2 linked regions of the Homo sapiens genome follow. The protein of the gene in region 2 purifies or fractionates together with the protein of the main gene of each other region. This does not show direct contact. Each region holds a gene or a part of one and is shown on either strand. Other genes may lie near its edges.

Region 1 (7,915 bases), on a different chromosome or scaffold from region 2:
ATCACAGGCTCACCCTTCTTGGCCTGGGCTTGTTGGATCCTCCAGATGGTCTTGGGGATCTCAAAGTTGTAGTTGGAAGGCAGGACCCGGATTGCTGCCTGCAGCTGAGGGTTCTTCAGGATCTCAGGGGGGATCTGATTGGCCACGCGGCCCCGAGGGGCCCGACCTAGAATGGATATAAGGCCTGAGTTGGTGTCTGTCTTTGGCTGAAGCCAGATTGAGATGGAATAGGGATCCCTTTTCAGGGCCTGCCGGTGCCCCCGCTCAAGCATAGAAATAAAAATTTTGAGTCATCTCAAGAAAAATCCCAGGCATCTTAGCTAGCCCTACAACCAGCAATTAGGGAATTAAATAACTTGCTAAACAAGAAGATAATAAACAACAGTCACCCAAGTCAGAGTCACGAGATGCCTGGTTCCCTATAGAAACTACACATAACACCTTGACATATATCCCTAAGTTGTTTTTCAGAAACCAGGACACCCACCCCCCCACCAGGTGAAAAATGCCAACTAATTGCTGTCATGTAAGACCTCAGACAGACTGAAGCCAGAAAATAGGTAAGAAAGTTCCAGAAATTCCCCAGCCCTTAATTCACTTTAAAGATCCCCAGAAGCCCAGCCTTTAAAAACCCTCTGCAGCCGGGCGCAGTGGCTCACGCCTGTAATCCCAGCACTTTGGGAGGCTGAGGCGGGCGGATCACGAGATCAGGAGATCGAGACCATCCTGGCTAACACGGGGAAATACTACTCTCTACTAAAAATACAAAAAATTAGCCGGGCCTGGTGGCAGGCACCTGTAGTCCCAGCTAAGGCAGGAGAATGGGGTGAACCCGGGAGGCGGAGCTTGCAGTGAGCCGAGATCACGCCGCTGCACTCCAGCCTGGGCAACAGAGCGAGACACCATCTCAAAAATAAATAAATAAATAAAATAAAAACCCTTTGCTTGTAAGCCATCAGGAAGTTTAGGTCTTAAGCTTTAGCTGCCCAGTCTCCCTGCTTGGTGCCTTACAATAAATGCTTGTTCTCTCCCTGCAAATCTCCATGTCAGTGTTTGGCTTTTGCTTTGTGTGGATGGGAAGACCCAAGTTGAGTTTGGTAACAAGACCCAGCTAAGCTGTTAACTCCACCAAGTTTAAGGGCCAGATCCAGACACCAAGGGGGTTGGCCCAGCTTTCGTTCTCACTGAATTCATCCTGAAGGTAGAGACAATTCATTAAGCCAGAAGGTAACCGGTATAATTTCCATGTTGTGAAATCACTGGGAATCGAAGACTTGAGCCCATGAATAGAATATGGCTCACCTTCTTCCTCAGGAGAACAGAGGTGACACCAGGGGCTAAGGGGCAAAGAATGAGTCTGAGTCCATATACTGCTCCCTGATAGAGAACAGCCCTGCGGAAAACCTAAGAGTCAGTCTAGCCAGCCCAGCCAGCCTGGGAGAATGTCCCCCCTCTCCCACCTCCTGAGGACACCTTGAAGTTTTGAGCTTCTAGATATGAGGTCTATAAGCAAACCGTTAAACATGAATACTAACTTAAAAGACTGCCCTCCTGACTCAGAACCCCACTGACTGTGGCCACACTGTTCGTTCTTTCACGCTTACCTCTCCTCATTTAAAAGGGAAATAAACATCATACATTTAACTGACTTAGCTGTCCCATTGCTCCTCCTTACTCTTAAACCAGGAAGGATGGAAAGAACACTTGAGTCAGGGTGGTGGACGTACCAGTAAGGACAGAAAAGTGACCTTGTCCCTTAGAGACCAGCAGTCTAGTGGGGGAAAAGACAGGTATACACATAATTACAACTCCTGGAGTAAAGGGGAAACCGTAGCCCTTAGCAAACTGCAACTCTTACTCTGGTCTCATCCTACTCCTAAGTAGGATAAAAAATAATAAGCTGAATAAACAATTCATCTTATTATTTTTTAAGGCAGGGTCTCACTCCATCACCCAGGCTGGAGTGCAGGGGTGCAATCATGGTCCACTGCGGCCTCGACGTCCTGGGCTCAAACGATAATCCTCCCACCTCAGCCTCCCCAGTAGCTAGGACCACAGGCATGTGCCAAGACGCAGGGCTAATTTTTTTTTTTTTTTTTTTTTTTGAGACAGAGTCTCACTCTGTCTGTTGGCCAGGCTGGAGTGCAGTGGTGCAATCTCGGCTCACTGCAACCTCAGCCTCTCGGACTCAAGCAATTCTCCTGCCTCAGCCTCCCGAGTAGCTGGGATTACAGGCGTGTGCTACCACACGCGGCTAATTTTTGTATTTTTAGTAGAGACAGGGTTTCCACCATGTTGGCCAGGCTGGTCTCAAACTCCTGACCTCAGGTAATCCGCCCGCCTCAGCCTCCCAGAGTGCTGGGATTACAGGTGTAAGCCACCGTGCCCGGCCACGCACGGCTATTTTTTATTTTTTTGTGCATACAGGGTCCCCCTATGTTTCCCAGACTGGTGTGGAATTCCTGGGCTCACACAATCCTCCTTAGCCTCCCAAAGTGCTCAGACTAAAGGTGTAAGCCACTATGCCCTGCCCCGACAATTAAGCTTAGTTCAACCCCGTTATCTCTTCAGGAGCCACAGAGTCTGAGGATATGAAAAGGCAAGAAATTAACTTATTCAACGAATATGTATTGAGACTGTGCTATGTGCCACAACTTCTGCTAGGGCCCCACACTATGATAGGAGGGACCCGCCCAGACATGAGGCTTCACCCACTGTGTGGGCGGCGGTGGGGATGGTCCAGCGGAGGCTGGGGCCCTGAGATCAGATTTGAACGTTACCACTGCTATGGTTTTTGGCCAGTTGTTTCAAAAGCCTTGGACAATCAGCCTAGGCTTCCTAGGCCCATTACAGATCCTCCTCTGACAGGTCCCTAGTGGTCGCTGGCGTGTAAGGAACTGCTAACATTAGCCCTTCAATGTGTCCCAGGGACCAGTAGGCACCTCCTCCTTTATCACGTGGCTATGATATGTTTACATTAACATTCCCCCAGTAGACTGAGATCTCTGATTCTAGTACCTGCACCCAGCGCAGGCCTGGCATTCGGTGGGCGCTCAGTTAATGCCTGGCGAATGAAACCTTTTGCCTCTTCCCTGAAAGCATTCCCTGAGGGCGCACTCGTAAAATGCCCGCTGCATCTGGCCTGGCCCTTTCCCTCCCCGTCGAGTCCATTTTATCCGTCTACCCGCCAAGACAAGGCTGTAGTTTCCGATTGGAGGATTAAGGGCTGCTCTCGGTCGTGCCCTAAAGCTGCAAAAGACTGGTACCCCTGGGCTCCGGCTGACAGCGACCCCGAGCTGGTGACAGCGGCCCAAGGCGACTAACAGCGGGATCTAGCGGAGAAAGGCGCCGCCGCCGTTAAAGGGGGTTGGTCCTGTCCCTAACTTGGGGGCCCCGCCCCGAGATGCGAGGTCTGGAGGGCGCAGCGTTCCAGCACCCACCTCTGCCAGGGCCGTCTCGGCCGCCCTGCTCCGCTGCCCCGGATACGACCAGCGCCGCCATCACCTGCCTGCGCATGTGGTACTAAAAAGACAGCGCTGGAAGAACGCGGAGAGCGCAGACATTGCGATCGATCGCCGATCGGCCAGCGGGGGCGGGGGATACCCGCTGGGCGGGGCCATAAAGGAGGAGATAGGGGCGGGGCTGTAGTGGGCTCCACCCCAGCCCAGAATGCCGGGACTCAGGATTCCCTAGAGGTCCCCGACTATGCAGTTGCCCTTGCCCTGCGACTTAGTCTCCCACTCCTCTCCCCGGCCGGGCACGAGCCTGGCACTCCCGGACCGGTGCTCTCCTATGTGCGAACTCCCTGCACGAACTCTGCAGGCCGAGTCTTGTGAAGGGGACACCCACCAGATGTTCCTTGAGCCCCCCCTGCCAGTCTCCCCTCCTGGTAAGCAGTGGTCGGTCACCCGGCCGCCGTGTGGGGCCACGTTCCCTACCTAGGGGGACTCTACTGTCCGGCAGGACAGAACTCAGGGACCACCAGCCCAGCTCCAAGTTGAGAGTCTTGGTGCAGGTTTGTGGATCGCCCTTATCAGCTTTTTAAATTATTTTTTTTGAGACAGGGTCTTGGTCTGTCGCCCAGGCTGGAGTGCAGTGGTGCGATCATGGTTCACAGCAGTCTCAACCTTCTGGGCTCAATTCATCTTCCTGCCTCAGCCCCCTGAGTACCCGGGACCACAGGCGTACGTTCAGCTAATTTTTTTTTTTTTTTTTTTTTTTTTTTTTAGTAGAGATAAGGTTTCACTATTTTGCTCAGGCTGGTCTTGAACCTCTGGACTCAAGCAATCCTCCCACTTTGGCCTCCCAAAGTGCTGGGATTACAGGCGCGAGCCACTGCACCCAGCCTTTATCACCTTTAGAATCCACTGCGTAGACCCTGTAGAAACTGCCCCTCTGGGGAAGGCCCACAGCCTGAGGGTGCTTTCCTGGGAAGGTGGGCAGTGGAGGACTGTGATGTCTAACCCTTCTGGACCCTGGCCAACCTTTGCCCTGCCCCTCAGGGCTGGTCTTTCTCCTGATCACTGGCCAGAGCCCCAGAGACCCCAAAGAGAAGACAGCCAGTGAGACGGCTTTGACCTGTGGAAGAGCAAAGTACCTGCAGGACTGGCCCTCAGCAGTCTGTCCCGTGGAACAATGGTCTTCCAGGTCTGACGGTCTACCCAGCCCCCTGGCATCCTCCTCCTCTCTCTGCGGTGGTGCTGTGATCACAGCTGGCCCTTTAAGTCAGCTCTGTGTCCTCGGGCTCCCCCAGAGGCCCTCCCTGCTTGGAAACCCCTAATTAAGGTGCAGGGAGAAGTAAAAACAAGCAGCCAGAGACAGGCCCTGCCTGGGAGGCTGCCCAGAGAGGAGGAATGGCTGGACAGGCAGGGAGTGAGCAGCTGAGGGACCATCACCAAGGGTCAGTGCTGTGCCCCCCAGGCCACCGGCACTCTTAGGACAGGTAGCTCTAGACAGAAAAGTGACCAATGTGGGTCCCAGGAACACTCCCCTCAACTCGATAAGCGTCCGGACTAGACCTTCCCATCTCCCCCCAGCTTCTCTGGATCCCCAGGGTGCAAGATCTGAATTCTGGGAGCTCAGCCCCTCCTCTCTCAGGACACTGCTGCCCAGCCTGTGGACAGCCTTAGCTGTGACTGCAGCATGGAGTTTCAAGGGGAAAGGACTGGCTCCAACTGAGCAATGGCTTCTCCCTAGCAGGCGCCATATCCCTTGGGACCTTTCCCTCATCAGAGGTGGGGCCTGTTTGATGGCAAAAGTCCCATCCCTCTAGTAACATTGCCCCGCACCCGCTGTGCCTAATGAGCTGCTCTGGCCCCCATTAGGAAGCCGGATGATGCCTAGGAGAACTGGACATGAAGAACAGATGTGAGAATGCTTCCCCAAGACTCCGTGGTGCAGGACATTGGGGGCTGCCATTCAGCTTGGGCTGAGGGCACCTCCATCTGTCTGTGGGGGTCTCCCTGCCTGAGTTACTCAGCAGTCTGAGTAATTACTGCCTGACAAGAAGGCGGGCACAGTGCACCCCCACAGTACACCACAACACCCGCCTTCACTCGCCCCCACTCCCTGGCTGGACTCCAAGGCAGCACCCAACCCTCCTGAGGCCTGAAATAACTCTGCTTCTCACACTCACGCCCAGCCCCAGCCAACTTTTCCTAAGACGCTAGAGTTTGTGGGCTAGGGGGTCATGGGGAGGCGGCTTGGAGAGGTGGAAGGAGGATTATCCCACATTCAGGCCCTGAGTCAGGCCCACACTTTATCGCTGATCTGTGATGTGACGTTGAGCAAGTTGTTCATCCTCTCTGGGCCTCGGTGTACTTACAGAGGACCTCTCAGGCTCCCAGTGTCAGGGCTAAGGCAGGCAGTGGGGTGAGCACTGCCTTGTAGCTGGTGGCTAAGAGAAGGAATACCTCACCTTCTGTTCTACGCCAAGAGGGACCAATCTTTTTTTGTTCGTGTTTAACTGCTCCTGTGGCCATGGGCAGTGTGCCCAGAGTAGCAGCCATCCATCTTTTTTTATCTTTAAACATTTTTTTGAAATAGAGATGGAGTCTCACACTGTTGCCCAGGCTGGTCTCAAACTCCTGGCCTCAAGCAATCCTCCCACCCCAGCCTTCCAAAGTGGTGAGATTATAGGTGTGAGCCCATGGTCCTCAGGAAGGACCAATCTTATCTATCTTCAGAACAAGGTTACTTCTCACCTTCAAGCATCTACGTGGAATGCCCTTCCCCCTTCTTAGTGTGGTGAACTCAGCCTTCAAGACCTAACTCCAAGGGCACCTCTTCTGTGACTGTTTCCTGATTATCTGGTAGCCCCTGGCAGAGCTAGCAGAGCCCTTTCGCAGTCTTTGTGACTTCTGTCAGTCACACTCTAAGATGGTTTGCGGGTCTTTCTTTTCCCACGACACCTGAAGCTTCTGGAAGTCCAAGCCCAGAGCCTTAGCTCAAATCTGAAGCTTCAGTGCCACCAAATGCAGGTGTGAGTGAATACGTCAGACTGGCCTTCTTTTTTTTTGTTTGTTTTGTTTTTTTGAGACAGTCTCGCTCTGTCACCCAGGCAGGAGTGCAGTGGTGTGATCTCGGCTCATTGCAATCTCCATCTCCTGTGTTCAAGAGATTCTCCCGTAGCCTCCCAAGTAGCTGGGATTACAGGCGCACACCACCACGCTCGGCTAATTTTTGTATTTTTAATAGAGACGGGGTTTCACCTTGGCCAGGCTGGTCTCGAACTCCTGACCTCAAGTGATCTGCTCAGCCTCCCAAAGTGCTGGGATTACAGGTGTGAGCCACCGCGCCCAGCCTGGCCCTTTTTTTTTTTTTTTTTTTGAGACAGAGTCTCACTCTGTCACCCAGGCTGGAGTGCAGTGGCGCGATCTCGGCTCACTGCAACCTCCGCCTCCCGGGTTCAAGCGAGTCTCCTGCCTCAGCCTCCCGAGTACCTGGGATTACAGGCGCCTGCCACCATGCCCGGCTAATTTTTGTATTTTTATTAGAGACCGGGTTTCACCATGCGGGCCAGGGTGGTCTCGAACTCCTGACCTCGTGATCTGCCTGCCTCCGCCTCCCAAAGTGCTAGGATTACAGGCGTGAGCCACCGCGCCCGGCCCTGACCTTCTTTTTGACCTTCCTATCATGTCACCTTTTCCTACAAGGAGGGATTCAGTTGGATTTCTGCTTGGATGTCACCTGCTCAGAGCAGCTTTCCTTGACTGCCACCTCTACCCCCGTGTCAGCTCCAGAACAATACTCTGCTTGTTTTTCTTCGAAGCACAATCTTCCCATCTTCTCTGGACTTTCCTCATTTGGCCCCTATTAAAATGGAAACTCCTTGAGGACAGGGCAAAGACAAGTCTTTTTCGTCTGCTGAATTTTCAGGAACAGTAGTGCCCCACACATGCTGAGCCTTCGGTGAATGTGTGTTGAATGACAGCCTTGGTCCATCCGCTTTTTCTTCTCTCCGAATCCCTCTGATCCCAGGCCAGCAGGGGGTGCCGCCTCCACCCAGGATCTCGCCTGGCCCGAACCTTCTCTTCCCTCAGCTCAACAGGCCCCTGCGGGACCCGCTTTCCAAGCGGCGCCTCCTCCATTTTCCGCGAACCCCCCGGCGGGGTCTGTGTGGACCAAGGGAGATCAGAGACCCCCCGCCGCCACCCCACCCAGGCGGAGACGGCCCACCCGAACCCGCACGGGTCCTTCCTTCTCCCTGGAATTTGCAGCTGGCCCTTTCCGAATGCTTGCTCCCCTCCTCTCCCCACGAAAGAACAGTGTCCTGGGACTCGGGGTGCGGGGCAGCCGGGTTCGCTGGAGCTGTTCAGTGCGGGGAAGAGCCGTCGAGACTGGGAGAAGGGGCGCTGGCCAGGGAGGAGACGGGGCAGGGAGCGGACTCGCGATCCGTACTCTGGGCGGCGGTCCT
Region 2 (8,101 bases):
AGGAATGATATATGTGCCAGGCAGAACACAGCAGGACTGTGCAAGATTTCATCATGCTACTCAGAATAAATTTAAAATTTATGAATGGTTTATTTCTAGAATTTTCCATTTAATATTTTTGGAACCTGGTTGACCATTGGTAACTGAAACCGCAGGAATCAACGCCACAAATAAAAGGCGTCTACTCTGCCAGCTTTATCTTATTTTCATTAAGCAGGTTTTTTAGTTTCAGACATGGGTTTTTAAACAAAACTATTTGTGCACAAACTTCCCATATTACCCCAGTTTTTGATCTGCATGTCCTGGTGGCAGCAGAATATCTACATAGATGTTAATTAGGGAGTTATTGTGTTGTATGAAGGGGGTCTCTGGAACTTGGCCTGAAGCAATATTCTTTGTAGGGTCCATTATTTTTATTTATATTGTTTGTTTTTGGGGGTGACAAGAGTAGCTAATGAAAATGATGGGTGGTGGTAAAAAGCAATGGGCTAAGGCACTCAGTAATTTACCCACTGTATTGTGTTTTGTTCTCTTTTGTGCTTTTTTTGATGTTAACTGTTTACTTCTAAGCAAATAACACAACTATCCTCTATGATAGTTTTTCTATTTCCATTTGTACAATTCTTTCAAGAAAACATCTTGAATGCCTTGAAGTTCAACATAAATCCTTATGAAAAACATACTCATCCCACTATAAACATCCTTGTACTTGCTGTTTCCCCTTCATATTTCTGAAACTGGTATCACTGTTCTTATAGTTTCACAAATGGCATCTGTCATCACTGACCCATCTCCTTTATTCACTCTGGTCTGCTTTTTTTCTCTCTTTGTTGGATCCCTATGGTCACATTTCATAAGAAAATAATTTGTATTTTCATGGAGTACCTGAACTAAGTATTCCAGACCAGGAGGGCAGTTTGCCATAGGAGTTGGCCCTGGCATCCATGTTATTGGAACAGACTGATTTGGCATAGGATATTTGCCAGGCTGATACCGGACAGGATGGATACCACCAACTGGCTGGTACAAAGGGAAGGTACTGGGTTGCTGTGGACTGTAGTATCCCATAGGCAAGCCTCCTGGGTAGCCAGTAGGTGGAGGGACAGCTGTTCCAGGGGGTCCTGTGTTCAAAAGAAATCAAAGTGTTATATATTATTAACACTAAAGTTAGCATAACTTTTTACATGCGATGAAATAGATCACACGACATCCACTTAAATATAACAACTTGTTCCATTTTTGATTCACACTTTATGCAGATCATGGTTGCATATGACCCAACGATGTATTAGGGAGACTTATTTACATATTAATTCATTTAATCCTCTTAAAGCTTATAAGATAATTATTCCCATTTCAATGGTACAAAAATAAGTTTTGAAACATTAGAAGAAACATGTTAGCTTCTTAATAAATTAGGTTCCTCCTTGGAGATAATAAACTTACCTAATGAGGTTGTAGTGGGATTAATTACTAACGTATTAATTACTAACGTATAATTACTAACATATAATTACTCCTGCAAATTTTTGTTATTATGTCTATTGTTATTGTTTGTGGTTACATAAATAATGTCTACTTCATTTCAAAGGAGTGCTTTTAATGAATATTTTAGGTTGCCTTGACCCAATCGCTTGTACATATCTTCATCATCGAGTTCTCAGACTGGTCCCCAATCCTGACCTCTTTTAGATTCAATTTCTTAAAGTTATTTTCTTAGTAGTTATGCTGCTATAACAAAATAAGCACAAACTGAGTGGCTTAAACAACAAGCATTTCTTTCTTATAGTTCTGGAGGCTGGGAAGTTCAAAGATAAATGTTAGCATGGTCAAACCTGGTGAGAGCCTTTCCTGGTTTGCAGATGTTCACCTTCTTGCTATATGCTCACAGAGTGAAGGGGGAGAGAGAGAGACAGAAAGACAGAATCCCTCTCATGTCTCCTCTTATAGGGTATGAGTGCCATCATGAGGGCTCCACTCTTTTGATTTAATTTTCTCTGAAAGGCCCCACTTCCAAGTAACATCACATTGGGAAATGGGACTTCAATATGTGAATTTGGGAGGGATATAAACATTCAGCCCACAGCACTTATCCCTCTATCATTTCTCCCCATTCCACCTTCAATCAGAGATCTGATGAATTATCTTTGTCATTATAAGTCCATCAAGGAACCTAGATTTCCTTAAATGGATACAAGATTTTATCATGCTTTAAGAGCACAGTCTACATATTCAATGCAATTCCCATCAAAATACTATCACCGTTCTTCACAGAACTAGAAAAAACAATCCTAAAATTCATATGCAACCAAAAAAGAGCCTGCATAGCCAAAGCAAAACTAAGTAAGTGAAAAGAACAAATCTGGAGGCATCACATTACTTGATTTCAAATGATACTATAAGGACATAGTCACCAAAACAAGATGGTACTGGTATAAAAATAGGCACATAGACCAATGGAACAGAATAGGGAACCCAAAAATAAACCCAAATACAGCCAACTGATCTTTGACAAAGCAAACAAAACACAAAGTGGGGAAAGGACACCCTATTCAACAAATGGTACTGGGATAATTGGCTAGCCACATGTATGAGAATGAAACTGGATGCTCATCTCTCACCTTATATAAAAATCAACGCAAGATGGATCAAGCACTTAAATCTAAGACCTGAAACTATAAAAATTCTAGAAGATAATATCAGAAAAACCCTTCTAGATATTGGCTTAGGCAAAGACTTCATGACCAAAAACCCAAAAGCAAATGCAACAAAAGCAATGATAAGTAGGTGGGACTTAATTAAACTAAAGAGCTTTTGCACAGCAAAAACAACAGTCAGCAGAGTAAACAGACAACCCAAACACAATCTATACATCTGACAAAGGACTAATATCCAGAATCTGTAACGAACTCAAACAAATTAGCAAGAAAATACAAACAATCCCATCAAAAAGTGGGATAAGGACATGAATAGACAATTCTCAAAAGAAGATACACAAATGGCCAACAATTGTATGAAAAAATACTCAGCATCACTAATGATCAGGGAAATGTAAATCAAAACCACAATGTAATAACCCCTTATTCCTGCAAGAATGGCCATAATCAAAAACTCAAAAAATAACAGATGTTGACATGTACGGAGAACAGGGAACACTTCTACACTGCTGGTGGGAATGTAAACTAGTATAGCCACTATGGAAAACAGTGTGGAGATTCCTTAAAGAACTAAAAGTAGAACTACCATTTGATCCAGCAATCCCACTACTGGGGTATTTATCCAGGGGAAAAGAAGTCAAAAAAAGATACTTGCATATGCATGTTTATAGCAGCGCAATTCACTGCTATAATACGGAACTAGCCCAAATGCCCATCAATCTACGAGTGGATAAAGAAAAATGTGGGATTACATATATATATGATGGAATACTACTCAGCCATAAAAAGGAATGAATTAATGGCATTCACAGCAACCTGGATGCGATTGGAGACTATTATTCTAAGGAAAGTAATTCAGGAATGGAAAACCAAATATTGTATGTTCTCACACGTAAGTGGGAGCTAAGCTATGAGGATGCAAAGGCATAGAAATGATACAATGGAATGGACTTTGGGGGCTCAGGGGTAATGATGGGAAGGGGGTGAGGGATAAAAGGCTACAAATTGGGTTCAGTGTATACTGCTTGGGTGGTGGGTGCACTAGAATCTCACAAAATATCACCACTAAAGAACTTACTCATATAACCAAATACCACCTGTTCCCCAAAATCCTATGGAAATAAAATATTTTTTAAAAAGAGTACTCATAAAAATGAATAAGCACACAACAGCTAATGTTTGACTTTAGGAATTTTTTTATCAAGGTCTCTTAAGATAAGCAGTGGTAACTTTGCATTTCACTATGTTTTTTTAAAGTCAAAGAATTGCCAACAATAAGTATGAGAATGCCATTACTGCATATCTATCTAGGTCTGGTTACCAGGAATTTTTTGAATAACTTTGATCATTACTAATTTATTTTTGTTTCACTTTCCAAGTTTTTAAGATTAATTAATTAAAATTTATAAATAACTGGGTCTTGGTTGTCTACCCAGAAATATGCAACAGACCCTAACTTATTGCTAAGGTCTTGTAGCTCTAACTGAAATCCTGTGAGTAGTAGAGCCACAAGCAGCCCACAAGTGATGTTGTCTGAACTGTCAGGAAGGCCAGGCTCAGATAAAGAAAGGTTTTTCTCCTTTAAGAGAGAATTTAAGGAATAATGTCCTGTGGTTGAAAACAAAATAAGTTATGTAAGTCAAGATATTTTATGTTAAGATTTCAGTATAGTCGTCCCTTGATATTCATAAAGGATTGGTTCCAGGACTCCCTCAAATACCAAAACCTACAAATGCTTAAGTCCCTTATATAAAATGGTGTAGTATTTACATGTAACCTACTCACAGCCTCCCATATACTTTAAATGATGTCTAGATTACTTACAATAGCTAACACAATGTAAATGCTAATATAAATTGTTTTTGTGTTATTTTTATTGTATAATTTTTATTGTCATTTTTAATTGTGCTTTTAAAATATTTTTAATCCACACTTTTTTGAATCCATGGATGAAGAATTCACAAATATAGGGGTCCAACTGTGGATCTATTTTAGTTTAAATTAAATAAAAACAACTTTTTATGAGCAGGGAATACCAGCTAAGACTTGAACTGTAAAATCTGAAGCCTTAGTGACAAGACATGAAGGCAATTTTTAAAAATGGAACTAGATTTTTCAGATTTTCAAAGGCAGATGTTTAAATTTAGAGAAAAAAATCACCTCAACATATTGTTTCTTAAATTGTGGCTCAATATACCAAGTCCTTCAAGATAATCTGGAGTTCTTAGTAAAATTCCAGATTCTGAGCCTCATTCCAATCTATTGCAACAGGATCTCTATGGCAAAACTTGAGATTAACAAAACATTTTATTTCATTGATCCTTTTTTAAAATGTACAATGTAGTGGTTTTAAGTATATTCTCAAAGTTGTGCAACCATCACTGCTACCTAAACCCAGAATTTTCATCATACCAGAAAGAACACCCATACCCATTAGCAGCAATTTCCATCTCCTCTTCCCCACAGTCCCTGAAAACCACTACTATCTGTGGATTTGCCTAATCTACACTTTTCATGTAAATGAAAACATACAATAGGCCTTTATGTCTGTTTTTTTTTTTACACTTGGCATGTTTTCAAGGTTCATCCATGTTGTAGCACATATAAGTACTTAATTCCATTTTATGGCTGAGTAGTATTCTATTGTGTGGATATATCACATTTTAGGTATTGTTTAATCAGTCAATGGACATTTAGGTTGCTTTCACTCTGGGCTATTATAAATAACACTGCTGTGATCCTCCATGTACAAGTTTTAGTGTGGACATGTTTTCAGTTCTCTAGCTATGAGTGAAATTAGCTGAAATATTTAGTAACTCCATTATTAACTGCCAAACTGTTTTCCAAAGTGGCTTTACAATTTCATGTCCACTTGCAAATATGAGAGTTCTACTTTCTCCACATCCTCCACCAATACTTGTTATTGTCTGTTTTTATTTTAGTCATCTTAGTGGGTATGAAGTTGTATCTTATTGTGATTTTTATTTGCATTTTTCTGATTACTAATGATGTTCAGCATCTTTTCATGTGCTTATTGGCCATTTGTATATCTCCTTTGGAGAACTATCTATTAAATCTTTTGCCTACTTTAAAACTGAATCATTTGTCTTTTTATTGTTGCATTATAAATGTTCTTTATATATTCAAGATAAAAGTCTCTTGCCAGATAGTTTGCAAGTGTTTTCTCTCATTGTGTAGGTTGTCTTTTCTCTTTGATAGTGTCCTTAGATATACAAAACTTTTTAATTGTTATGAAGTCCAATTTATTTTTTGTTGGTTGTTTGTGCTTTAGAGTGTCATATCATATCTAAGAAACTATTGCCTAATCCAAGGACATAAATACTTACATCTATATCTTGTAAAAGTTTTATAGTTTTCACTCTTAGACATAGGTCTTTCAAACACATAGATCTTTGATTCATTTAGAGTTTTTGTGTTTAGGGTGAGACAGTTTCAAATCATTCTTTTGTATGTTGATATTCATTTGTCTCAGATCCTTTGTTGAAAAGAGTATTCTTTCCCTATTGAATTATTTTGACATGCTTGTAAAAAATCAGTTGGCTACAGATGTTTGGGTTTATTTCTTAGACTCTCAATTCTATCTCATTGGTCTATATGTCTATCTTTATGCTAGTACTGTGGTATTGACTTCTGTAGCTTTATAGTAAATTGGAAATTGGGAATTGTGAGTCCTCCAATTTTTTTTCAAGATTGTTTAGGCTATTCTGAATCCTTTACATTTCCATATGTATTTGAGGAATAGCCTGTCAATTTAAAAATTCCACTGTGATAAGAATTGTGTTGAATCTGTAGATCAATTTAAGGAGCATTTCCATTTAACAATATTTACTTTTCAAATCTGTAAAATGCCTTTCCACTTACGTAGTCTTCTTTAATTTCTTTCAACGTTTTATAGTTTTCAATATGAAAGATATTTTACTCCTTTTATTAAAGTTACTTCTGGGTATGTTATTTTTAATGTTATTGTATGTGGAATTATAATTTTAATTTCTTTTTACATTTTTCATTGTTAATATATAGAAATACTTTTGGATTTCTGTATTATGATCTTATATCCTAACACACTGCTGAACTTGTTTATTGTGCTGTTTGTGGGTATATATGGGTTTTTTTGTTTTGTTTTTTTTTGTTTTTTGGGTTTTTTTTTTTTTAGACAGGGTCTCAGTCTGTCACCCAGGCTGAAGTGCAGTAGTATGATCATAGTTCACTGCAGTCTCAAATCCCTGGACTCAATTGATCCTTCTACCCTAGCCTCCAGGTAACTGGGACTACAGGAGTACAGGAGTGTACCACTGCACCCAGCTTAGACTTTTTACATATATAGGCTCATGTCTTCTGCAAATGGAGATGGTTTTGTTTCTTTCTTTCAATCTGGATGAATTTTCTTTCTTTTTCTTGACTAATTGCTCTGGCTAGAACTTCCAGTACAATGCTGAATAGAAGTGGCAAGAAAGATACCCTGTCTCATTCTTGATCTTAGATGAAATGAACGTTTTCAGTCTTTACTCCTAAACATAATGTTTGGTGTGAGTTTTTCATAGGTACTCTTTTATCAGATTGAGGGAGTTCCTCCTATTTCTAGTTTCTTAAGTGTTTTTATCATGGAGGATGTTGTATTTTGTCAAGTGTGATTTCTGTGCTTACTGATGTGGTCATGTGGTGTTTGTACTATATTTTATTAATATAGTACATACATTGATGTGTTTTAATATGATATTTAATGTGATAAACCAATCTTTTATCCATGGGATAAATCCCACTTGGTCATGGTGTTTAATCCTTTTTTATGTTCCTAAATCTGGTTTGCTAGTAATTTGTTGAGAAAGTCCGATTCTATATTTATTAGGGATATGATCTTTAGTTTTCTTTTCTTGTAACATCTATGTCAGATTTTGCTAATTGGGTAATACTGGCCTCTAGAATTAGCTAGGAAGAATTCATTCTTCTTTCATTTCTATGGAAGACATTGTAAATGACTGGTATTAAAACCTTCATGCAGCATTTAGTAAAATTTCCTTTTTTTTTTTTTTTTGTGATGTAGTCTCAACTGTCACCCAGGCTGGAGTACAGTGGTGTGATCTTTGCTTACTGCAACTTCTGCATCCCGGGATCAAGCCATTCTCCTGTCTCAGTGTCCCAAGTAGCTGGGATTACAGGCACCTGTCAGCTAATTTTTGTATTTTTAGTAGAGATGGGATTTCGCCATGTTGGTCAGGCTGGTCTCAAATTCCTGACCTCAGGTGATCCACCCGCCTCGGATTCCCAAAGTGCTGGGATTACAGGCGTGAACCACAGCACCCGGCCAAATTCACTATTGAAGCCATTTGGGCCTTAGCTTTATTTTGTGGAAAAGTTTTAAATGACGAATTTAATCTCTTTACTTGTTATATAAGTCTGTTAAGGTTTCTGTTTCTTCTTGAGTC

What was found.
Region 1: the proteins of PLSCR4 (region 2) and DPH1 purify together in Homo sapiens (affinity purification with mass spectrometry; 2 studies listed by BioGRID and IntAct, with this or other methods). This does not show direct contact.

The regions. Positions count from the first base shown.
Region 1 is NC_000017.11:2,025,756-2,033,670, reverse strand, and holds the start of DPH1 (2-(3-amino-3-carboxypropyl)histidine synthase subunit 1), read right to left. Parts: upstream 3,519-7,915; 5' UTR 3,517-3,518; coding exon of another isoform or gene 3,502-3,516; coding exon 3,441-3,501; intron 167-3,440; coding exon 14-166; intron 1-13. UniProt on the Homo sapiens protein: Catalyzes the first step of diphthamide biosynthesis, a post-translational modification of histidine which occurs in elongation factor 2.
Region 2 is NC_000003.12:146,205,641-146,213,741, forward strand, and holds part of PLSCR4 (phospholipid scramblase 4), read right to left. Parts: intron 1,122-8,101; coding exon 886-1,121; intron 1-885. UniProt on the Homo sapiens protein: Catalyzes metal ion-induced ATP-independent rapid bidirectional and non-specific movement of phospholipids (lipid scrambling or lipid flip-flop) between the inner and outer leaflet of the plasma membrane and participates in the redistribution of phospholipids between membrane leaflets.